Regions from separate parts of the Homo sapiens genome. Here all the other regions are linked to region 3. Evidence: fine-mapped expression QTL. A gene starts in region 3. Each other region holds a variant in brackets. All regions are shown on one strand. Distances are between the middles of the regions. Region 1 has its middle 63 kb from the start of TTI1. Region 2 overlaps TTI1 (TELO2 interacting protein 1). Region 3 holds the start of TTI1 (TELO2 interacting protein 1). Region 4 overlaps TTI1 (TELO2 interacting protein 1).

What was found. PIP is the estimated chance that this variant, and not a neighbour inherited with it, causes the effect.
Region 1: its variant is the best candidate, but not a certain one, in a credible set for the expression of TTI1 in cerebellar hemisphere (GTEx, PIP 0.57).
Region 2: its variant is the best candidate, but not a certain one, in a credible set for the expression of TTI1 in whole blood (INTERVAL, PIP 0.67).
Region 4: its variant is the best candidate, but not a certain one, in a credible set for the expression of TTI1 in tibial nerve (GTEx, PIP 0.70).

The regions. Positions count from the first base shown.
Region 1 is chr20:37,966,818-37,974,521 of GRCh38, forward strand. No RefSeq gene overlaps it. Among named protein-coding and RNA genes, the nearest start is that of TTI1, 63 kb to the right of the region's middle. The variant A/T (reference allele first, on the strand shown) is at 3,491.
Region 2 is chr20:38,007,950-38,012,949 of GRCh38, forward strand. TTI1 (TELO2 interacting protein 1) reads right to left here. Exons shown (of 8, transcript NM_001303457.2): 2 at 3,566-5,000. Among named protein-coding and RNA genes, the nearest start is that of TTI1, 23 kb to the right of the region's middle. The variant AT/A (reference allele first, on the strand shown) is at 2,688.
Region 3 is chr20:38,029,249-38,036,952 of GRCh38, forward strand. It overlaps TTI1 (TELO2 interacting protein 1), which reads right to left and starts at 4,208. Exons shown (of 8, transcript NM_001303457.2): 1 at 4,156-4,208. RPRD1B (regulation of nuclear pre-mRNA domain containing 1B) reads left to right here and starts at 4,498. Exons shown (of 7, transcript NM_021215.4): 1 at 4,498-4,850. The coding sequence starts at 4,700. It overlaps LOC124904898 (a long non-coding RNA gene), which reads left to right and starts at 4,858. Exons shown (of 2, transcript XR_007067579.1): 1 at 4,858-6,157. RefSeq lists enhancers at 3,939-4,534, 4,065-4,334, 4,535-5,130.
Region 4 is chr20:37,985,806-37,990,805 of GRCh38, forward strand. The region is part of intron 7 of TTI1 (TELO2 interacting protein 1); the gene reads right to left. Among named protein-coding and RNA genes, the nearest start is that of TTI1, 45 kb to the right of the region's middle. RefSeq lists an enhancer at 4,780-4,859. The variant C/A (reference allele first, on the strand shown) is at 2,487.

The DNA of each region.
Region 1 (7,704 bases), 62 kb before region 3:
TACTGAGACTTGTTTTGTGGTCTATCATATGATCTATCTTGGAGAATGTTCCATATGCTGAAGAATAGAATGTATATTCTGTAGTTGTTGGGTAGAATGTTCTGTAAATATCAATATCTGTTAAGTCCATTTATTGTAGGGTGTAATTTAAGTCCATTGTTTCTTTGTTGGCTTTCTGTCTTGATGACCTGTCTAGTGCTGTCAGTGGAATATTAAAGACCCCCACTATTATTGTATTGCCATCTATCTCATTTCTTAGGTCTAGTAGTAATTGTTTTATAAATTTGGGAGTTCCAGTGTTAGGTACATATGTATTTAGAACTGTGATATTTTCCTGTTGGACTAGTCCTTTTATCTACGTAACGTCTCTCTTTGTCTTTTTAAACTGCCGTTGCTTTAGAGTTTGTTTTGTCTGATATAAGAATAGCTACTCCTGCTTGCTTTTCGTGTCCATTTGCATGGAATATCTTTTCCCATCCCTTTACCTTAAGTTTATGTGAGACCTTATGTGTCAGATGAGTGTCTTGAAGACAGCAGAAACTTGGTTGGTGAATTCTTACCCATTATGCCATTCTGTATCTTGGAAGTGGAGCATTTAGGCCATTTACATTCAATGTTAGTATTGAGATGTGAGGTACTATTCTATTCATCCTGTTATTTGTTGCCTAAATACCTTTTTCTTCATTGTGTTATTGTAATATAGGTCCTGTGAGATTTATGCTTTAAGGAGGTTCTATTTTAGTGTATTTTGAGGATTTGTTTCAAGATTTAGAGCTCCTTTAACAGTTCTTGTAGTGCTGGGTTGGTAGTGGTGAATTCTGTCAGCATTTGTTTGTCTGAAAAAGACTGTATCTTTCCTTCATTTATGAAGTTTAGTTTTGCTGGATACAAAATTCTTGGCTGATAATTGTTTTGTTTAAGCTGGCTAAAAATAGGACCCCAATCCCTTTTAGCTTGTAGGGTTTCTGCTGAGAAATCTGCTTTTAATCTGACAGGTTTTCCTTTATAGGTTACCTGATGCTTTTGTCTCACAGCTCTTAAGATCCTTTTCTTCATCTTGACTTTAGATAACCCAGTGACTATGTACCTAGATGATGATCTTTTTGCGATAAATTTCCCAGGTGTTCTTTGAGCTTCTTGTATTTGGATGTCTAGATCTCTAGCAAGGCTGGGGAAGTTTTCCTCAATTATTCCCTAAAATATGTTTTCCAAACCTTTAGATTTCTCTTCTTCCTCGGGAACACTAATTATTCTTAGGTTTGGATGTTTAACATAGTCCCAAACTTCTTGGAGGCTTTATTTTTTAAAATTCTTTTCTTTGTTTTTGACAGATTGGGTTAATTTGAAAGCCTGGTCTTTGAGTTCTGTAGTTTTTTCTTCTGATTGTTCAATCCTATTGCTAAGACTTTCCAGTGCATTTTGCATTTCTCTAGGTGTGTCTTTGATTTCCAGAAGTTGTGATTGTTTTTTATTTGTGCTATTTCACTGAAGAATTTTTCTTTCATTTCCTGTATCATGTTTTTGATTTCTTTAAGTTGGACTTCACATTTCTCTGGTGTCTCCTTGATTAGCTCAATAATTGACCTTCTGAATTTTTTGGGGGGAATTCAGAGATTTCATCTTGGTTTGGATCCATTGCTGGTGAGCTGGTATAATCTTTTGGGGGTGTGAAAGAACCTTGTTTTGTCACATTACCAGAATTGTTTTTCTGGTTCCTTCTCATTTGGGTAGACTATGTCAGAGGGACGATTAGGGATTCAGGGGCTGCTGTTCAGACTCTTTGGCCCCATGGGGTGCTCCCTTGATGTGGTGCTCTTCCCCTTCCCCTAGGGATGGGGCTTCCTGAGAGCCAAACTGTAGTGATTGCTTTTGCTTTTTTGGGTCTAGCCACCCAGTGGAGCTACTGGGCTCTAGGCTGGTATTGGGAAGCATCTGCAGAGTCCTGTAATCTGTAATGTGATCCATCTTCAGGTGTTGCAGCCATGGATACCAGCACCTGCTCCTGTGGAGCTAGCAGGGGAGTGAAGTGGGCTCTGTGAGGGTCTTTGGTTGTGTTTTTGTTTAGAGTGCTGGTTTTGAGTTGGTTGGCCTCCAGCCAGGAGGTGGTGCTTTCAAGAGTGCATCAGCTGCGGTCCCACACGGAGGAAGCAAACTTGCCCTAGAGACAACTGGTTAAGTATTCAGGATTCTCAGGCAGTGGGCAGGGCTGCAGAGCTCCCAAGAGATTACGACTTTTGTCTTCAGTTACCAGGGCAGGTAGAGAAAGACCACCAGGAGGGGGCAGGGAAAGGCATGTCTGAGTTTAGCTTCTCCTTGGGCAGGGCTTACTGCAGCTGCTGTGGGGAATAGGGGACTGTTTCCCAGTCCAGTGGAGTTATATTCCCAGGGGGATTATGGCTGCCTCTGCTGAGTCATACAGGTCACCAGGGAAATGAGGGAAAGCTGGCAGTCATGGGCCTCACCCACTCCTATGCAGCCTGCAGTCCTAAAGGCTGGTCTCACTCCTACCATGCCCCTCCAACAGCACTGAGTCTATTTCCAGGCAGCCGGTGACCAGGGCCGAGAACTTGCCCCAGACCACGAGCCTCCCTGTTGAGAAAGCAAGCAGACTCACAGGTTTTTGGCATCTCAGGGAGCCTGCAGCAGTGATCCAGTTCCTTTAAAGGGTCTGTGGATTCTCTCGGCTTTCCTAGTATGTACCTGTAGTAGTTCTTGGAGCAAAAGTTCACGATGTGAGTCTCCACTGGCTGCTCTGTCCATCCGAGCGGGAGCTGCAAGCTAGTCTGGCCTCCTATCTGCCATTTAATCTCATCACATGTAGTGATTTTTAGATTAATCCATATTACTGTGTATATCCAGTAATATGGATATTCCTTTTAATATGTGTATTCCTTTTTGGGTAGTATTCTGTTGTATGGTTATGTCACAATTTTTTAACCATTTTTAACCATTCTTCTATTGATAGACATTTGAATTGTTTCCAGTTTGGGCTGTTACGTATAAATCTGCTATGAACATTCATATACAAGTCTTTGTGTGGACATGTTTTCATTTGTCCTGGGCAAACACCTAAGAGTGGGGTTGCTTTAACTTTATACGAAACTCCCAAACTGTTTTCCTAAGCAGCTATACCATTTTGCATTCCCATCCACAATGTACGAGTTCCAGCTGGGGAGCAGAGGTTATTTTTAAAGCATGAACCCAATGCCGTCTTGACTGGAGGTGATGGCAGAAACACTTTAGAATAAAATGCTAGAAATGGTAATGAAGGCTCCAGGAGGGCACAGACTCCAAGTGTCCTGTTTCCTGCTGCATCCCCAATGACTAGCACAGGGCTTGGCTCCTGGCACCCGCTCAATAAATGAATCAGTGAATAAAAGATTTGCCTCTGACAGACATTAACAGCTTATAAGTGTTGGGTCAAAGTTTGGACCTACTGCATCTTATTTAATCAAAAGAAGTTTTAGGAGCCCTGGTTTCTCCTTCCCCA[A/T]GTTTCATTAGACACTTAATTTTCAACTAGTTGGCATTTCTACCTGGTTACTACAATATCTGCTGACTCTAGTCTGGCTTCCCTTCACAGCCCGAGACGGCCACTCTGCCTCCCATCACTGAGTATGCACTTCAGCCAGCAGAAAGGAGGACATGGGAAGAGAACACACCCTGTATTTATGGAGACTTGGCTGTAGTTGCAGATCATTTCTGCTTATCTGTCATGGGCCAGAACTTGGTCATATGGCCACATCCAGCTGCAGGGAGAACTGGAAACCATGGCCTTTATTTGGATCAGCTGTATGCCTAAATACCAGGACCCTGTTGCTAAGAAGGGGAGGACAGACAATGAATCACTTCTATTGAATGAATGATAATAATGGCAGGCCCTAACCTGAGCCTGGCTTTGTCCAGAACTGCTGTAGGGACTTCGAGGTCAATATGCCATATTATTCAGAAAACATGTTTATTTTTCAACTCCAGGGAGAATCCTTTCAATTCATACACAAAAGAAAGCAAGGCTGGTGAGTACGGAAGGTGTCTCACTCAGCACTTCTTGTCCCTGCCCCTGGCCACACAGGCCAGCCACTTGGATTCCTCCTCAAGGTGGTCTGCTTCAGCTACAAGGGGCAGGGAGCATTTGAAGGATGGTGCATTCAAAGAAGGGGGAGCTAATGATGGGATGGGGACATGGACATATACCACTGGCCTCTCTGGGAACCAAATGGCTCCCTCTGAGTGACCTACCTTAAGAAGCTCTGGTGTGCTAAGCAGACCCCAGCTGGGCCACCATGGTCTACAGATACACTCAGTAAGGGAAGCAAGTGAGAGAGAGGAGGGGATCCAGGCAAGGGTAACTAGGATGTGGAAGGGACTTGAAATGTATCTGTGTTTTGTTTCCAGGATATCTTATCATGAGTTCTTCCAGAAGCAGGTACTGAGACAAAGAATTGAGGGCAGGTAGTTCATTTGGACCTAATCCCAGGAAGCACCAGTAGGGACATGGGGAAGTGAGACAGGGAAAGAGTGCAGGGTCAAGGAAGTTATACCACTGTGCCCAAGTGGGGCTCAGTCCTACTAGGGAACTGTGGGAGCCAGTGTAGAATACACACCTTGAAGTTACCCTGCCCAAGGGGTTGGGTTTAAGAGTTTAAGAAAGAGGAAAGAAAGATGAAATGCAGCTCAACATTAAATCGGCCAGAAGCCCCTCTCAGGTTTATTTCTCTAAGATAAACCTGTCTTTGACTGTTGAGCCTCATTTCCTGTTTCTTTCCTCTTTCTTTAACTCTTACACTGGGGAGCTGTGATTTTTACACATCAGTTATTGGCTGAGGGTTGCTCCCAAGACCTGCTTAATTCACCAGGACTTCTGGCCTGCCAAGCGTGGAGACAGAAGGCCTTCCTTACCTGCAGAAAATCCTTAGTCAAAGAAATCAAATGCAGGGCAGCTGGAAGTTGGCTGGAGCACACCGAGGTGGTAAGCCCTGACGGATGTGGAGTGGGCACTGGGTACTTACTGTCTGCTACAAAGGATGAAGCCAACATCAATTACACATGCTCTCGTTCTGTGACACACACACACGCCTCTTGCACACCTCTTACACTGGCTTCATTTTTCCTGACTCACACTGCTCCCTCTCAACACAACACCTTTGCATATGCCATTCTGGATGTCTGAGCCACTCTTCTACTCTTTCTGTTCCCCCTTCCATGAGTTAAGTTCTACTTATTCTTCAGATCTTGGCTCAAATGCCCCTTCCTCTTGCCCCCTCCCACCCCAGGGCAAGATCAGGTCCTCCTGTTGCACATTGTCCCAGCTCCCTGGCCTGTAAGTGTGTCATTATAGGTCTTTAAGTTTAGGTGATTAATGCTGTCTCCTCCATCAGACTGTGAGGAAGGGATCCTCCCTTTCTTGTTTACAGTGACACACAGTAGGGACTCAAAAAATGTATGTTGAATGAATGAATGAATCAATGCCAGTCTGATCGACTAAGGCTCCCTATAGCTAGAGAGGGAATTTACCAGCTAAAGATCCCAGGAAGAGAAGGCGGCTAATTAGCAATTCATTAGGATCCATTTTCACATCTATAGTCAATGCTAATCACTTGTTTGTTTAAAACAGGAAGTTCTGCACTCATTAAAGCCATTACTAAATGAAAATGTTTCTCATGGAAGTCTGGCCTCCCACACTGGAGTGTAAACTCAAGGACTGCACCCCCTCTTTTGTGTAGACTTTCCAGAAATCAGCAAAGCAGGTGCTCACAAGCTGGAAATACCCTGGGTTAGGACCCTAGTGTTTGCTGCCAGTGGGACCTTAGGAACCAGGCCCTTCAGCTCTGGCTGGGAGTGGCCTGGCAAGGGTGAGCTCTGCCCATCATTCCTCATCCACCCTATTCCACCCTGCAGAAAAGCCCCAGAGAACAACTTCCCTATGGCAATGCTACCCACCCATTACTCACGCACCTATTGGGTGCCCGCCAGATGTACAGCCCAGGCCCACCTCTCGGGTATTGAACAGACTGGCCTGCTTTCCTGAAGTTTCACCTTTTTCTTTATCTTCATTGCCCACTGCCCCCACCTTACATCAACACGAGCAACACCTTAAATGTGTTGTTTGAGCCTTTGTACCTGCTGTTCCCTCTGTCCAGAGCGGGCCTTCCCTGTGTGTACTTCATGGGCAAATACTGCAATGCCAGCTTGGTGGTGTCTCCTCCATGAAGCCTCCCAATTGCCTTTTGGTTCAACCTCTGGGCTGCCATTTATATTTTTGAATATCATCATCTTCATGGTGGTGACCAACTCTGATAGAGCACCTCCCAGGGGCCAGCCGGTCCCTGAGTCTATCACTCTACCACTCTGGTGTCCCATGCTCCCAGGGAGGTACTGTTCTTATTTTCATTTCGTCAAGGCTAAGAGTCCTGAAGAGACTTTCCCAAGGCCACATGGCAGGCCTTCTTATCTCCAGAGCCCATGAGCTTAACTGCCGCTCCCTACCTCCTCCCAATGCAGACTTATTGCTGTCTTCTCACACGAACTTGCCCTGTTTAGCTCTCCTGTAAGCCTAGCTCCTAAGAGGCAGTATACATGTCTTTTTGTCTCTGGGGCTGGCACATAGAAAGCCTTGAAAAATACTTGTTGAAATTTCCAACCAGCAGATTTCAGATCCTGTTCCATAAACCCTGTTGTAACTGATCATGCAACTGATCAGTAGCCTCCTGTTAGAATCCTGTCTTTGCTCTTAATGTCTCTGGAGGAGTTACTGGATATGTCAGTCATCATGACCATGAGATGAAGCGGCAAGTCATGACCCTGTCGTGTGTCTCTGTCAGGTGCTGAAGATGCAGAAAGGAATATGACTCCTACATGAGAAAAAGGCTGCAAGCCCCACGCAGAGCTGTGGCGAGGAGGGCGGCATTGCAGTGCCCTGATTTCAACATGGGTAGTCAGGAAAAGCTCCGAGGCCTGACCTGCCTCTCTTGGGGTTCTGAGGGGGCTCAGATGAGCTAGGGCATGGGCGGGAGATCATCTTCCTACATGCCCACGGGGATACAACCCATTCCCTGAGAGGCATCCTCTCCAAGATTCCTTTGCTTATTTTTTGCTTATTATTATTATTATTATTATTATTTTTTAGACGGAGTCTCACTCTGTCGCCCAGGCTGGAGTGCAGTGGTATGATCTGAAGCAATTCTCTGCCTTAGCCTCCTGAATAGCTGGGATTACAGGCGCCCACCACCACGCCCAGCTGATTTTTTTTTTTTGTATGTTTAGTAGAGACGGGGTTTCACCATCTTGGCCAGGCTGGTCTTGAACTCCTGACCTTGTGATCCACCCACCTCGGCCTCCCAAAGTGCTGGGATTACAGGCGTGAGCCACTGTGCCCAGCTACTTATTTGGATTAAGCATTGCTTCCCCTTCTCCCAGCCCTGGTTCCCCTCGAGAAACACAAAGCACAAGCGAGGGACCCAAGATGATGTTAGGCCCCTAATACCAAATGTGAGTTTGCCATAGGATTATAGACACATAAACGCCTTCTATTTTGATGACTTTTTTTGTGTGAGTGGATAAGCTACACATGAATAGGGTTTAAAAAAATGTCAAGGGTGTATGGGGTACTTGTGAGAAGACTTCTCATCACTGATCCTGTCACCCTTCCTAGAAGCTGAAGGCTGCCACTTGGGTGTCCTTTAAGAGAGAATCCACACATCAAGTGTC
Region 2 (5,000 bases), 23 kb before region 3:
GATATGCTGCAAAGATTATTTCTAGATTCAAGGCTGGTGACAGACATTAAAATGTCTTTGCTCACAAATGGCTTTTAAACATATGAAAAGAAGCTCAATCTCACGTTTAATGCAAATTAAAACTATAATAAGGTGCTATTTTTCTCCTATTGGATTAGCAAAGATCAAAAGCTTGGTAATACACAGTGTGGGTGATGGCGTGGCAAAACTGGCACTCTCGTACATTGCTGATGGAGTTTAAATTGGTACAACCTCTTAGAGAGCAATTTGATACTCTCTCAAAAATTTAAACGTAATACCCTTTAAACCAGCATTTTTTTCAGAAATTCATCCTATTAATATACTGAGACATGTCCAAAATGACCTACAAAGATATTCAATGCAGCATTTTTTGTGGTGGCCAAAGACTGGAAATGACCAAAATGTCTACCAAGAAAGGACTGGTTAAATACACTATGGTGCAGACGCGTGATGGAATACTATGCAGCCATAAAAAGAATGCAGCAGCACATTCTCCAAGTTGTGAAGTATGTGACATAAATACTTATTTTCAAAGCTACCCTATTTTTTTCTTGTTATGAATAATCAGCTAACCAGCAGTTGGGATTAAGCAGTAATTAACTGATGCTTCTTGCCCTTACCGTGGCACCTAATGCTTTTTTAGTCACTGCATGTGACACACTATGTTAATGATAACTCAATTTCCTAAAGCTCTTACTGGGTTCTTCTAAGGCCTTTCAGAAGTTCTCTGAGAACACATTTCCACACCCATCTTAAAAGAGTGGACGTCAGTTAGATAATTCTATGACAAACAGAAATGACAGCAAAAGGTACTACTCTGATTTATGAGTGACTATACCAACTCCACCTGAGTACTACTTCCTGTTCAAAAAGTGAGTGTATTCTGGGTTATTTCAAAACTTTCATAAAAGCTAGCTCTAAGTTTGCTTCTGTTCCAAGGAAGCCCCAGAGTCAGTCTTAACCATTCAATTTTCCTTTCTGCAAGGGAGACCCTCTCCCTCCACCTCATTTTTTTTTTTTTAAAAGCACTACAAAGCTACACAGGAGTCTTGACACTCCTCCTTCAGAGATGACCGAAGACATCAGCAATCTAAGACAATTCAATTTTGAAGGCCCAAATTCAGATACCTCTTGAGAGATATATTTCACAGGGCTTTTCTTAACCTACATTTTAAAAATTTCAAATTGAAACATAGCATAGGTCGCTAAAGCAGTACAGGTGGGATATATTTGGCCCATGGAAGCCAGTCTTAGTCTGCATAAGCAACCAGTCAGTCCTATGAGGGGCTCCACGAGGGCAGGCCTAAGTGGGTCTTATTCATGGCTGACTCCCCAGTGACTAGCCCACTACACAGGCTTCCAAGTAGCTGCAAAATAAAATCCAAACTCCTTCTCTTGCTCCTCAAGGCCCTACCAGGATTTGTCCTTGCCCTTCTTTCCAACTTCATCTTGCAACACTCTCTACAAAGGCCTCTTTTCCATTCTCCAAAGACCCATGCCCCTTCTTCCTTCTGGGCCTTCCCACCTGAATTTTTATTTATTTATTTTTTTTTTTGAGACAGTCTTCCTCTGTCACCCAGGCTGGAGTGCAGTGGTGCAATCATGGCTCACTGCAGCCCTGACCTCCCTGGGCTTAGGTGATGCTTCTACCTCCCAAGTAGCTGGAATTACAGGCATGTACCGCCACTCCCAACTAATTTTTTTCCATTTTTAGTAGAGACGAGGCCATACTAGGTTGCCCAGGCTGGTCTTGAACTCCTGGGCTCAAGCAATCCGCCCACCTCAGCCTCCCAAAGTGTTGAGATTACAGGTGTGAGCCACGGCACCCGGCCTGAATGTTCTTAAAAATAAATGTGATAGCCCCCTATGTGTTGATGGGCCTTTCTCATCCTTCAGGTTTTGGCTTTAGTGTTGCTTCCTCAGAGAGGCCCTCCCTGACCACTGAACTTATAGGAGCCTGTGTCTGTTACACTGAGGTGTTTATTTCCTTCACGGTGTTTATCAGAATCTGCCGTGAGCTTGTCTAATGATTTGTTTACTTGTTTATCATCTCTCTTGCAGTGGCAGGGAAGTTCCATGAGTTTATTCGTCTTTTTCTCTGCTCTATCTTCATTACTTAGCACAGTGTCTGACATATGGCAGGCACTCTTGAATGAATGAATGAAAAAGGAACATTTATGCTGAACGTGAATGCTCATGCATGAATAAACAAACACTGGAAATGGCATTAGCTACAGGGCAGTGCACTGTCCCTGCCCCAGTTACCTTCCATGAGAATGTTTCTTACAAGGTCTTGGCTTTTTCAACTGACAAAATGAGGCCAGTGACCATTCCACCTTCTCAGAGGCTATTAGCAGTACTGAGATAAATACTGGAAATATGCTCTTTAAATAAAAGGGACCCAAGCTATACAGCTTATTATTTTCTCATTGAAAGATTGACTATCCAGTTGAAGGATTCCTTTCCTTATAATTGAAGTCCAAAATTTTGCCATTCCTTTTTTTTTTTTTTTTTTTTTGAGACAGAGTCTCACTCTGTCACCCAGGCTGGAGTGCAGTGGCGCGATCTTGGCTCACTGCAAGCTCCGCTTCCCAGGTTCAGGCCATTCTCCTGCCTCAGCTTCCCAAGTAGCTGGGACTACAGGCGCCCGCCACCACGTCTGGCTA[AT/A]TTTTTTTTTTTTATTTTTTAGTAGAGACGGGGTTTCACCATGTTAGCAAGGATGGTCTCGATCTCCTGACCTCTTGATCCGCCTGCCTTGGCCTCCCAAAGTGCTGGGATTACAGGCATGAGCCACCGCCCCCAGCCAATTTTGCCATTCTAATAGTGGCTAACATCTTCGGTAAGCACCCAATAGGATCAGTGGGAAGAAGAGAAACTTAAACCAACTCACACAATTAAAAGGTTAAAAGGAAGTTTCTAGACCTGCTCTGTCCAGTATGGTAGTCACTAGCTACATGTGGCTATTAAAATTAAGTAAAATATAGAATTCAGTTCCTCAGGTGCACGAACCACATGTGTATAGTGGTAACTGTACTGGATAGAACGAATAAAGATTATTTCTATCATCAAAGAAACTTCTCTTAGTACCGTTCTAGACAATATGTGACTGAATAATTCACGTTATATCTGTTCTTCATTAGCATAGATACTGCTAACTCTATGCATCATCAGAAGCAGTTTGCTATACTGGAAAGAACAAAACTGTCATAAATCCTGATTTTATCATTTATTAATTGTGTGACCCTGGCTAAGTAGGATGTCACTGACCCTTAGTTTTTCTTATTTATAAAATAGAAATAATATTTACATTTATTCTGCAGGGTTTATACCCTGGCATAGAGCAGGAGCTCAATAAATGGTAGAGATTACTGAAAGTATAAAAGATAAACAGTGAAACCCCCCCATAACCTATGGGACTGGAGAGAAAATGATTAAAACGTCCTCCATAGCATCACCACAAACAATGCAAAAAACGAGGCTAAGCAAACTAGGAGACTGAGTCCTGTCCCCCACACATCAGCATTAAAAAGGGCTCTCAATGTACCTAATGCTGCCATCAGAGCATGCAGAACGCTGACAAAGGAAGCAGCTCTCTTATCGTAAAATTGGTCCAGGGTGGCCAAGACATCTTGAACCACATCTGCCACCAAAGGAAGCAGGTTAGCATCTGAGTTCCGCAGCATGACTTCCAGGACCTTTGGGGTATGAGGATGCAGAGCCAGATGACGCAGATTTAAAGAGATCCCATTCACTAAATAGTCTGAATTTTGATTGATCAGGTGCTGCAGGGAGTCGTAGCCACAAGCACGGCAAACGTCCATCATGGTGCTGGTAGCCACCTGACTAATGAGTAGGGTTTGGTCTCCAGCCTTCTCCAGTACTGGATAAAGGGCTGACATCAAGAGCAAACAGAAGTCTTTTCCTAGTGCATATGCAAACTGGCCAATTCCTTCCAACTGAATGCATATTTGCCAGATGTTACTGTTCATGGAGCAAATAGTGGGACTTGGCTTTGAGAAGGCTAGAAAAGATGTAACTTGGCAGGTGTGTTCACCAGACGTGATGGCTTGGAGGCCTGGGTGCTCCATCATCAGCTCCTCTCCCATTTCCTCAGTTTCAAGACAGGTAACCAAATACCAATTTTCTTGACTTGTGTATTCTTCAAGTATAGATGTCACAATCTCTCTCAGTTCTTCTGGGTTTGTTTTAATATGTTTTTCGTGAAGATCCTCAACCTCCAGCCCAGCAGCCCCTGTAACCAGTTCATTAAGGATCATGGCAGCTTGCTTCCGGTAAACCACAGATTGATGGTAAAGTTCCATAAAGTGATCCACAAGCAAATAAAGATTCCCATAATAACCAAGTAGCTGACAAACCTGCCTCAAGAGCATGAAGATTCTCTCATCAGTGAAGAAGCGGAAATATCTCCTCTGGATGCGGTTCCAAGGCTGTGTGGCTGAGGTCTTTGGAGAAGCATTCAGATCATCAGAGTTCCAACGCCGTTCCTCAACAATCTTGATGTCAGCCACGTCTAGCTCTAGAACTTGGATGAGTGCTTTGGAAAGCCGCTGGAGATGGGCCACAGAGTTGAGGACAAAGTTTATTTTTGGGCCCAAGAGTTTCAGATAACCAAGTAACAAGGAAAGAGTAGAGAATTTGCCCTGGTCATCTTGGGAGTTCATTAGGCGAGGAAGAGATGTGGCAAGGGAATGCAGGCTTTCTGACAAGATGTCAGCGAGGGCTTTGTTGCCCACCACTACTTTTTGATCTGCAAAATGTCTCAGAACTTTATTGCACTGGGCTTGGATTTCAGGACTCTCATCATTTACTAGTCCCACTAAGGCCTTCAGAAGGGGACCAGCACATTCGACCAATGATTGACTGCACTTCAAAAGAAGGTCCTCCACAAGTTCTACCAGTTCCAGTCTCACCTTCCAGTGTGGGTGAACAGAAACACACTCAATTATCTTTTTAATAAG
Region 3 (7,704 bases):
ATAGGGAAATGAATGAAAATGAAAATATGACACACCAAAATCTGTGGATACAGCTATAGCCATGCTGAGATGTAAATTAATAGTACTAAGTCATATATTAGAAAAGGGGAAAAGTCTCAAACGAAAAAGGTAAACTCCTACCACAAGAACCTAGACAAAGTAGAGCAAAATAAAGCAAGCAGAAGAAATAATAAGGAGCAGAAACTGACAAAACTGAAAACAGAAAACACAGAAAGTCAATGAAATAAATAACTGGTTCTTTGAAAAGGTCAATAAAATTGACAAACTTCTAGCAAGATTGACAAGGGAGTGAGTGAGCAAGAGAGAGAGAGAGAGAGAGAGGAGAGAGAAGAGACGAGACACTGATACTGGAAATTTCCAATATCAGTAATGAAACGGGACAGTACTACAGACCCTGCAGACATCAAAGGGTAATATGGGAATGCTATGGTTTGAATATCCGTCCCTTCCAAAACTCATGTTGAAATTTAATTCCCAATGTATTGAGAAGTGGAGTCTTTATAAGCCCTCATAAATGGATTAATGGGTTATCATGGGAACTGGTGGCTTTATAAGAGCAAAACAGACCTCAGCTAGCACACTCAGCCCCCTGGCCCTGTGATATCCTGCACTGCCTTGGGACTCTGCAGAGTCCCCACCAGCAAGAAAGTTTTTTACCTGATGTGGCCCTGTGACCTTGGATTTCTCAGCCTCCATAACTGTAAGAAATACATCCTTTTTCTTTATAAATTACCCAGTTTCAGGTATTCTGTTATAAGCAACAGAAAACAAAGACAGGGAATACCACAAATAGCTTTACCCATATAAATTTGACAACTTTGATGAAGTGGTTAATTCCTCAAAAAACACAACCACAATAGGAAAGAGATTATTTTAACAGCTTTATAACTTTTAAATAAACTGAATTTGTCACTTAAAAACTCCAGAAAAAAAAGGAAGAAGGGAAGGAAGGGAGGGAGGGAGGAGGGAGGAAGGAGGAAGGAGGGAGGGAGGGAAGCAGGGAGTGGAGGGAATCTCCAAACCAAGATGGTTTCATTGGAGAATTCCGCCAAACATTTAATGAAGAATTAACACCAATTCTGCACATACTCTTCTAGAAAAAGAAGAAACACTTTCCAATCCATTTTATAAAGCCAGTATTATCCTGATACCAAACCAAAGGCAATACAAAAATTAAAAAAATCTATAGACCAATTTCTCTCATGAGTATAGATGCAAAAATCCTAAAGAAAATATTAGGAAATTCAGCAGTATGTAAAACACACACACACACACACACACACACACACACACCATGATAAAGTGGGGTATATTTCAGAGATGCAAGACTGGCTCAATATTTGAAAATCAATTAGAGTTGTTAATACTAACAAGCTATTAACAAGCTTAAGAAGAAAAATCACATAATCATATCATCCTCACCTTTCAGACCTCTATATGTTGAAGAATCCTAGGACTCAGTCTCTTTTTACACCTTATTCCGTTATGACTCTCACATTTTTATCTCTAACCCAGATAGCTCTTCCTTGAATTCCAGACCCATAAACCCAACTGCCCCTTAGACATCTATACTCAGATAGGCATTTCCAAATGGACATGTCCAAATACAAATGCTTGCTCTTACTCTCCAAACCCACTCTTTTCTGTAATTCAGTAAATGGAAGCGCTATTCTTATAGTTGCTTAGGCCAAAACCCTTGGAGCTATCTCAACTCTCATATGTCTTTCACACCCCATATCCAATCTATCAGCGGATCCTGTTACCTCTTCCTCTAAAATATCCCCAGAACTGTCCCTTTCTTACCACTTCCACAGATACCACCCTGGTTTGAGTTATCCTTTCACCTGGGTTACTACAACAGCTGCCAAACTGGTCCTTCCTGCTTCTACCTTTGCACTCTTACTGTCTTATTTTCTACCTAACAGCCACAATGCTCCTTCTTTGTGCAAAACTGCCCAGTGGACTTCATTTCATTCAGAGTAACATCTAAAGTCTATACTATTGCCTACAAGTCACCATGTGATGCAGTCCCTTCGTACTTTTCTGAACTAATTTCCAGCCACCCTTCTAGTTCATATCACTCCAGCTTTATTGTCCTCTCTGCTGTTGCTCCAAAATGCCAACAATGGTATAAACTTGGTTTTCCCTCTTCCTGGAACAATGGCATATGGCTTGTCTCTCAAATGACATCTTATCAATGAGGCCTTCTCTGAGAAGCATAAGTAAAAGACTACCCACCTACACATATACATTCCTTATCCTCCTTATCTCCTTGATTTTTATTGAAGTTACTTACCACTTTCTGACTTATTCTAAACTTGCATGTTTGTTTTTCTATCTTTCTCAGTAGAAAGTAAGTTCCTGAGAACGTGGATTTTGTCTGTTAGCTTAGAAGAGTGCTTTGGACATAGGTGCTGAAAAATTATTTTCCGAATGAATGAATAAACTATTGGTTCAGGAGGCAAGAATTTGGGATCAGACATAAGATAACCCTAATTTGACTCCTGGCTCTGCTATTTCCTAACTATGTCCAAGTACATAGGGTACTTAACCATGCTTTACATTTTCTCGTCTATCAAATAGTGATTGTAATAATTTCAACTCCTAAGACTGATGTAAGAATTAAATTTAAAAAGTATGTAATGTGCTTAATAGACAGTGACTTGGTATAAAAGTGCTCAGTATATGACAGTGTTATTAATATGGAAAGATGATCTAGATTTCGACACAAAAGCCCTCAGTTATGACTAGATACTCACTGTATGATTTTAGGTTACTCACCTCTTTTACACTAACTCACTTGATAAATCAGGAACTGGGGCCAAAAAGATGGCTAAGTTGCAGCCCCTTCCCTCAAGTCTTAGTAATGTGATCTTGGGTAGGTCACTTAACCTCTCTGAGCCTGTTTCCTACGCTGTCCAAAGGGGGATAATATAATACCTCACAGCTTTGTTGTGAGGATTAAATGAGTTACTGTGTGGGAATTGTGTCTAGCACATAGTAACCTCTCACTGCGTTAGCTATGATTATGATTCCAGTCTGGAGGAAGGGTAAAAGCATGTAAGCAAAGAACTGCAATACAGTGCAATAAGAGCAAAAGCAGGCATCAACTAGAAGAACGTCTCCTAAACTAGAGTCTGCCCACAACTAGGAAGTTATACCACGATCAGGAAATTTTAAAACCCTCTTATGTCTATAACTTAACTCCCTACCATCACCCCCGTGGCAGTAAGAAAAACAAAATTTCTCTGCTGCTTTGATACCTGGGATTTAAAACTTAAAAAAAAAATAGGGTCAAGGTTTAGAGTCTCAGATAGTGTTTTGTTTTGTTTCAGAGAAGAGTCTCGCTCCATCGCCCAGGCTGGAGTGCAGTGGCACGATCATAGCTCACTGTAACCTCTAACTCCTGGGCTCAAGGTATCCTCTCGCGTAGCTGGAACTGCAGGTGAGCGTCACCATGCCTGGCTAATTTTCGCTGTTACCCAGGCTGGTCTTGAACTCCAGTCCTCAAGCTATCCTCTCGCCTCGGCCTCCCAAAGGGTTGGGATTACAAGCAAGAGACGTTGCGCCAGGCCTCAAATAGTGTGTCTCAACATGAGGTCAACAGACACATTGGGAAGGCTAAGTTAGTTCCCTCCACCTTTTCCCTAAAGTTAACACCTCACTTAAGTTCGAAAAAGTCAACTGGACCCGCAGACGGCAAAAGCAGCACGTAATAATACCCTGAGTGAGAACCCACTTAAGAGCCGAGAGCCCAAATGTGTGTTTCATGACGGCGCTGTTACAGACTAAAAGGTCAAAACAGGACATTAAAGGGTGCTCCGGGGGGCTGAGTAGGAGCTCACCAGGTGAGAAAGGGGATGTCACTTTCGGACAGAGAACGAGCGCCAGGGCGTGGAGGCGTGAAAAGGGCACGTGGGTGGCTTGGAAGAACCAAAACTAAGTGTTTTGGGGGACAGCCAGAGAGCCGAACACATATGGAGGAAAGATGCGGCCTGGGGCCCGCCAGATTAGAAAGGAAATCCCCCTCCCATATCCAGATCATGATCTCTCAGACTCAATGTCCCCTCAGGATACCCCTCTACAGGGTCCCAGCTGCTGGGCTCCCTCTGGTTCCCGCCACTCTTCCCTTACCTCGTCTTCCAGCCTTTCTCTCACTCTCCCGCCTCCTCTGCCTCGCCGGAAGTGACGCGCTAAGTAGCGCGCCGTATCGCGCCAGAAAGGTTCCGAGGGAGCGGGAAAAAGGGTTCCGGCGAGATCCACTGCGCCGGTGTGCAGGCTCGAGCGGTCAAAGCTCTTTCCGGGGGCCCGGGGAACTACTCTCCTTGCCTCGCTCTGTCTCCTTCGAAGTGCTCTGCGCGAGGTTCAGAGCGGCCGCCGCCTCCAAAGGGACGGTTTTCTAGAGCTCCGACGCCTCTCGGTGCCCCTCTGCTCCGGCCCTTGCCCTTTGACCTCGCTCTCGCGGCAGGGTGAGAGGTCGGGTGGCCATCTTGTGGCGGCGGCGCGGGCGGCTGTTACTGCGGAGACCCATCCCCTCCCCCTTCTCGCACCCCTGGCAGTCTGTCAGTCGGTAAAAAGTCCCGCAGCCTGTCAGGTGAGGCCCCGGCCTCGTGCCGTCGCTCTTCCCGCCGCACTGGGCGGCCCAGGCCGCTCCCTGCCGGGCCTCACTGCCGCCACCATGTCCTCCTTCTCTGAGTCGGCGCTGGAGAAGAAGCTCTCGGAGCTGAGCAACTCTCAGCAGAGCGTGCAGACCCTGTCCCTTTGGCTCATCCACCACCGCAAGCACGCGGGACCCATCGTCTCCGTGTGGCACCGCGAGCTCCGCAAAGGTAAACACCAAATCCCCACCCCCTGGACGGTCCCCGGATTGTCCTCTCGCCCACATACAACCTAGGCCCCTCTAAGCCTCTTCATTGAGCCTTGCTTTCCAGGCCTGATCGAGCTTCTGAGATGGGAGACAAAGTTAGCCCCATTTCTCGAAGAAGGAAACTGAGGCCCGGGAAGGTTTAAGGTACTTGCCTGAGGGTCCACGGACTGGGACTCAGGTGTCCAGACTTCTAGTTCATCAAGCCATTTTCCCTTCAGTTTCCCCCTGACATTTGTGGCTGTTATTATCTCGGCTGCATTCACTGCCGTACTGGCCCTAGCATGTCGGGCCCAGTGCTGGGTATTTGGAGTAAAAGCCAGTGGGCTCCGGAGTCAGACTCTGCAGATCGAGTCCTGGCTCAGCTATTTGCCAGCTGAATAATACTGGGAGAGTTTCTTCATCTCCCTGTGTCTCCGTTTTCTCATCTGTAAGAGGGAGGCAAGGATAGCTACCCCTTACAAAGCCTTTACTTCATACCAGTCACTATACTAAGACCTTTGTGTGTATCCTCGCACTCAGTCCTTAGAACAGCCCTGTGAAGTAGGTAGTCTCTCCCATCTTAGGTTAAGGGGCCACCCAGACCTTACCTCTCCTCTCCTCTCCTCTCTCATGCAGTTGTCATTGATTTCAGGCCCTGCTCAGGTTCTGACAGACAATTCATTGAACTCATTCTGTTATGTGCCAGGCACTGGCTTGGACACTTGCAGCATGTTGCCTCTGCCAACTGCCTAGAATTTAAGCCTGACTTTGCCGCCTTACTGACCCCAGCAACTTAACCTGTCTGTGCCTTAATTTTCTTATCTACAGAATGGATAACTGAAATTTACTATGTCTTTATTACATGCGAAGTGCAGTACTGATATCTTTACATACATTGCCATTAAAAAAAATTCTCGGAGCCCTATGAAGTAGGAACTTTGCAGAAGAGGAAAAACTGAGACTCATCTCGTGGTGAGGAGTAAACGGGATAATCCAAATGAACATTTAGCATGGGGTGAGGCACAGTGTAGGCATTCAGCAGATTATGGTGAGATGAGACTTTTGATTACTCACTGTGAGGCATGGTCTTTACCTTCAAGTTGCTTACAGTCTGGTGGGGAAAGATGGACACCTACACTCCCGGATGAGTTTCATAATGGAAGACTGAAGAAATGAAGCTCAGAGCTGCTCCAGACACCCTATATGTGGTAGGCCTTTATAGCGAAGTGGCTTTACAAGTGTTCTATACTATCTGTGAGTTGGGGACACCACAGATGTCCTGCTCTACAGGTGAGGAAACTGAAGTGGCTAAGTGGTATTTTCAAGGCTTTCGAACTGAACAGGCTCAGACTACAACAGGCTGGCAAACACCAAAATCTTCATGATTTTTTTCAGGAGACCCAGTTCTAGCCCTTTAGCAGGGACTGCCCCCAAATATCGCGTACTGTACTGAGATAGGGATCCCCTCAGCCCTTCGGGCAGTTCCGGGAAGAGGTAGAGCCTGGAGTTTATGGGGCCTTCTTCATGTACCCCACTGTGCCATTCAGAAATTATTTGAAGAGTGTGCTGAAATGTGAATTGCCACTGTACAGAATTCTATTGGGTGGGACCTCAAGAGGCAGTTAAAGTCCATCTCAGGTGTCATTTTTTTTGTTTTTTTTTTTTTGAGATGGGGGTCTCGCTCTGTCACCCAGGCTGAAGTGCAGTGGTGCGATCTCAGCTCACTGCAAGCTCCACCTCCCGGGTTCATGCCATTCTCCTGCCTCAGCCTCCCGAGTAGCTGGAACTACAGGGGCCCGCCACCACACCCAGCTAATTTTTTGTATTTTTAGTAGAGATGGGGTTTCACTGTGTTAGCCAGGATGGTCTTGATCTCCTGACCTTGTGATGCCCCCGCCTCGGCCTCCCAAAGTGCTGGTATTACAGGTGTGAGCCACCACGCCTGGCCAAGTGTCACTTCTTTTGTGACACTTTCTTGATTCCTTGCCTCACCCTAGTTGAGTTACTGAAAAAAAGCAAATTAGAGAGTACATTTGTGTATGAAGCTCCGTTATCCCTAATCTTACGTGGTAAAGCCTTATGTTGCAAGTAGGCTAGCATTATTATCCTCATTTTATAGATGAGATGATAAAGGTATAGAGGGATTAAGTGCCTTGTCCACAGACATACAGCTAGGACATGAGCCCAGGGCTGCCTGATGCCAAAATGTGTTCTTTTTCATGTACTCAGTGCCTCAATGCATTTAATAAGTGAAGGTGGTCACCTGACTGCAATCAAACTGTGGTGCTTTCATTTATTAGAATTAATGAGTGCCTCCCACCCCATCATACCAGTTTAGCATTTAATTTGTTCCTACTAGCTGTTCATTTGAACTGGTTACATCTTTGTCATTAGATTATGTTTTGAGAGAGGAACTAGACCTTCTTGTTTATTTGCAACACCACAGGATATCGCGTGGTGCCTGTTATATAGTTTAAAAATAGGAATTAAATCATGGTCTCTGATAGAATTTTCGTGGTTGAGTAAAGGATCTAAACAGCGCTATCCAATACAACTTTCTATGATAGCAGCATAAAGGATATAAACAGCGCTATCTAATACAATTTTCTGTGATAATAGCAATGTTTTCTATCTGTGCCATCCAACAGGTAGCCGCTTGGTATATGTGGCTATGGAGCACTTAAAATGTGTGACTAAGGAACTAAAGTTTTAAGTAGATAGAATTGAAAATTTAGTTTCCAGTTTTTACCAGCTGCAATTCAGGTGTTCCAATAGCCACACGTGGCTAGTGGCTAACTTACTGGACAGTGCAGAGTTAAAAAAAGATGCTCTTCCAA
Region 4 (5,000 bases), 45 kb before region 3:
TGTGAGCACCGGGCCCGGCCTACTGAATTTTTTCCTGGCCTGTTCTGTGCCCAAACAATTTACTTTTCTTTGCTAGGATAATCTTGTGTTTATAACCTCCATAGTGGTTGTTGGAGAAGTGATTAGAATATTCTAATTCATCGTTTCCACTTCACCGCAGAAAGATGAGGCCTGCGTGGGAGACAATTTTTGTTTAAAAATAAAAATATCTTTGATAATTAGAGTGGCAAGGGAAATTATGAAAAAACGCACCAAAAGCGGGGAGCAGATTTCTATTTACACGTGACACAGTTGACAGTTTTCCCTGGTGCCAAAGACTGTTAGAATGCAAATGGTTTCATTTGATTTTTTCCCCTTTCAAGAGCTGGAACAATTTCTCAAGCTACAGCGTGGTGCTCTCCCAGCTTCAAGGAATATTTTTATCTGGGCAACACCCAGCAAAGCGGTGCCACGACCCAGTTCAGTCATAGCTGCGCTCTGACTTACACAGCATGAAAATGCTGCAATGTTCATTTTCTGAGCTCTTTTTAACATGCTAAATATGAATGTCGTATTTGTTGGCAGGAAAGGAAAAGAAAATAAGCCACTCTTTTTGCCCTGCAAGATATCCACATAAAATATTAACAGAAAAGCAAAGGAAAAACTTGTGCAAAGTTCACCTTCTTTTATTAAGCAAGAGCCAAACTCTTGGAAGGACTGTTTTGGGTCTCATTTCTTTGCTTTTAAAGGGGCAGATGCCCCAGAATGGCAGGAATGCACGTTCCTTCTCCCACCTCTGTGGCTTAGAGCAAGTGATTTTGCCTCATGAACCTGTTTCCTCTTTCTCCAAAGATGATCACACCTGGCCCACTCTCCTCACAGGTCCTTCTGAGGCTCTGAGGAGAGGAGGTGCAGGACAACACTTTGAAGTATATGATGAAAACAGTATTCCTTCTTTTCTTCCAGAAAGAGAGAGAGAGGGACACAGAGTCTGAGGCATAATTAACACCACCAATCTTAGCAGCACTACCATGCCATGGATAATTTTCAGATACCCTGAAAAGGGCAAAACATTTGTCTTTTGTTTCACTCATAATTTTCTCCATACTGACTTGGTGGGGGTATCCCAGTTCTCAGCCAATGATGTTCTAATTTCGCCCATTATTTTCAGGAAGAAACAAATGCAATATACTTTGTCCTCTGCATGCCTGAGGTGGGGAGCAAATGCCATGCCATGCAACCAGATGGCTGGCAAGTGTAGCTGTGCTCTCACTCCGAGAGGCAGGCGGCCTGCTGAACTCTAAACACGACAAATTCCAAACCGCACCCTTGTTGGCTTTAAGCCCCTGGGAGCTGAGCCTGAGGCCCAGGAGGTCTGATCTGAGTCCTTAGCGCCAGGCTTTGTTCCAAACTCTGGTGTCACTTTGTCCTGGGGCCAGTTCCTGCCCAGCCTTAGCTGAAACCAGAGAGTGAACAGCTGAAAGCCAAAGTTGTTGAAAACTCCTTTTGCATAAGCCAAAGCCAGAAGACAAAGACAGGACCTCTGCTTTGAAGTGACTGGGGTAACTGCCTGGAAAATGTTCCCAATACATTTTGCGATGCGCAGGGATGGCTGTTGAACATACCAAATGGCCAGTTCCATCTTTTTTCAAACCCAAAGAGAAACACTTTTTAAAAAATATATGTACACCATTTAACTCCTGAACAAAAATTTCTTTCTCCTCCCCCCAGGCCCAAATCAGTGGCTCCAGAGAGCACAGTTATCAAGAGATTATCTGGTCCCCAGAGTATCGGGAGGCACTCAGCTGTGCCACATGCCTCCGAGTGTCCTGAGGCGAGTGATTATCTCTCAATAACCTGTAAGGCCGTGTAGCTTAAATGATAACTTGACTTTAAAAAATTTAGAACTCGCTGTTAGGCAGTTTCTAAGCAACTGTTTCCATGGCAAAGAAGCCTGGTGTTTATACTGATTTTTCACTTAAAATGCAGTTTTATTGAATTTCACTCCATGCAGGCAGCCATTTGCCTGCACTTCAGCCCTATCTACAACTGACGGCTATCAGTAAGTACCTAATAAACTCCAGATGCCAAACCAGAAGTGGCTCCTTCCTTCGTGATCAGTATGGGGGTGCCCCTAGTGAGCAAGCTGGGGGCGAGGAGGTGGGAATGGGGAGGGAGGAAACGTGCTCCTGGAATCTGGTCAGCTGGGTTTAAGTTTTATCTCTTCATGGTTTATCAAACGTTTACTAAAGCCTGGTCCAGCCCAGGCCCTAACTGAGGTGCTTGAGGCACAAAGAGAGAGGGACAAAAAAGCCTCTGCCCTCAGGGCTCCCTGTCTGCTGGGGTAGACTAAGGGATCACAGAGGCCCATGGCACACTGTTGCAAGGGCCAGCCTAGAAGTGATGTGCGGGTGGCACCAGGCATGGCTTCCTGAGGAGAGGCACGGCAAGTTGCTTCTCTGTAAAGAGCGAGTGGACCAGATCAGTTCTAAGATCCCTGGTAGCTC[C/A]AACAGACCACGAGAGTTTTCAATCATGGGCACTGGATCATTACTCACCCCACCCCACAATATGGCAAAACCAAAAAGAACCCCCTCTGCTCTGCTGCAGGAGCGAATATTACAGAATATGTTCTCACCATCTCTGTCTAGACAACATCTGCTCAAAGAGAGATCTAGAAAACCGCCAGCCAATGAGGGCCCAGTGAAGCTAAATAAACTGTAACTGAAATGCAGGGCTTCCAGCTCTCCTGGGTGACAGGCTATTCTTCCTGTGTCAATTACTTGCTTGAGGGATCTGCTGTTCTCCGTCTCTTTCTGGATTTATAAAATGCTCTCATGAGCCATCAGGGTAAATGCCAGTGGTAAAGAACATGTGGCTTTGTGATCTGTTTGTTTGCTTACTTATTTGGGGCTTCTAAAGAAGTTACTCAGAAATGTCTCCTTAGGAACACGATACAGGCTCTCTCTATGTGGGCATGGTTAAATGCAGTGGGAAAGTAAGCTCACTTGTGGGAAAGCAGGCATACTCACTAAGTTATTTTGGTGTTCCCGTTGTTCCCTCTCTGGCAGCACAGCCTCCACACTCTCCTCCTCTCTGGCCATCTCTTCTCCCATCACTCTGTGCATGCTGATGCTGCAAAGGAGGCTGTGTGTTTCCTTTTAAACAAATGGATGCTCAGGGTGTTGATGCGTCCTAGCCAGCAAGCAGTGGGGCTATGTTTCTATACTTGGTAATTTACTCTAATGGGTCTCAGTTCATTGGTTAACCAGTATTTCAAGCCTGTCCTTTCTTGCTATTCAATTTAGCTATCTTCCCCTGCACGGAGGTCGTTTTTTATTTCTAAATGTTGGAAATGGAGGATTATGACTTGAAGCAACGATTTACTCTCCAAATAAATACTACCAATTACCTTTGCAGCTATACATGCTCGTTTGACTTAACTATGTTTACCTGTTCAAAACCATTCATCTATCGATCTAACGCCAACATGCATACTCACACAGAGACCCATATCAAAAATATTTAAATGCAACATGGGCAGGACTTAAAACCGTAAACACCAGTAGAAGCAAATGATGCTAACCATACCTCTGAAGTGCCACAAGATAAAGTATCATAAATGCAGAGGAATGATTCCATTGCTTTGTGCATATTTAAAAGGATATGGCGCTGAGAGGTCCAATCTGTTATAGACAATTCAAAAATAAGCCAGAATCTAGGAGGGTTTACATCCCACTGGGGCGAGATTTAAAAGCAGCCCTTTCCATCTGGCCAGTTCTCCTGCCTCCAGGAACCCTGCAAGCCTAGATCCCACGACAGTGTATTGGGCACAGATTTCAAAGTGGCATTCTGTGCTGAGCACTATGAGGGCTGACTCGGACCTTTCCCCCAGCTGGCTGCACTCTCGGGCCACATTGTTTCCTGCCCCTCCCTGGAAGGTATGTACCCTTGAAGATAAAGACATCTTCATAGCAGCCTAGGTAGGCTTGCCCACCTCCTGCCTGAACTGTTTTCCTGTAACCTGTGCTCTGGCACTAAGCCAGCAGCCTCCACTCACGGATGCCTTCAGAAACAGCTCTAGGAAATGTCCTTCTGTATTTACTGCAAGGACGTTGAGGATATTAGTCACAACAGTACCCAGTGTTCTTTTAAGATGACCCACAGAGAAATTTTCCTCAAGCGTCAGTAATAAGGAAAGCCATGCTTCTTTCTGAAAAGCTTTCTTTCCTTTTCTTTTTAAAAACTCTTATTCAGGTACTTCCTGTACCATTTTCCTCTTTGCTGTCTGTCAGGAAGCACAGAGCCACTCTGAAAGCTCCTCTCTAGCAAGGGTGCAGGGCTCTAACTGTATTGTCTATATTAACCTCAACTCGGTCTCATCTTGTTTTTGCTGTTATTTTTCCATTTAAAAAATTTCTTCACTTCCTTCCTTTTTTCTTTGTTGCAAACAATTTATAAGATGTTCCAAGTCATTTTCGGAATAAGAAGAAATTTAAATAATGATTCACAACTACTATTTAGTGACTTTTACTCTGTGGTGGTATTTTGTGCTACCTGACTTTACTGAATCCTTGTCGTCATTGTAGTAGGTGAAATAAGCAAAATAACATACATGCTTTTTTCGGTCTTATAGATGAGAAAACAGAGACTTTGAGAAGTGAATTAATTTGCCAAGGTTATCTTGTTATTGAACAACAATGTGAGGCCTTGGTAGTTATCTCTGAAAATCTTCAACTCTCAACACAGCACTTGGCTCATCATAAGAGACCCAATAAAAATCTTTTAAAATACATCTATACAATAAGACAAATAGAGATCATCTCCCTGGCTACTTTATTTACTCAGTACTGAGACAACATTTACTTCCACGCCTCTGAGGTGTTCGAGAGGGATGACAGAGCCTGCAGAATGAGGAAATGACTACCCTGTGGTCGACCACAGCCTCTGATGACCAAAACCCACTTTGTGCAGGCGGTGCTGCGACCAGGCTCGATCTGTCATCGAGAACATTCTGCTCCCAA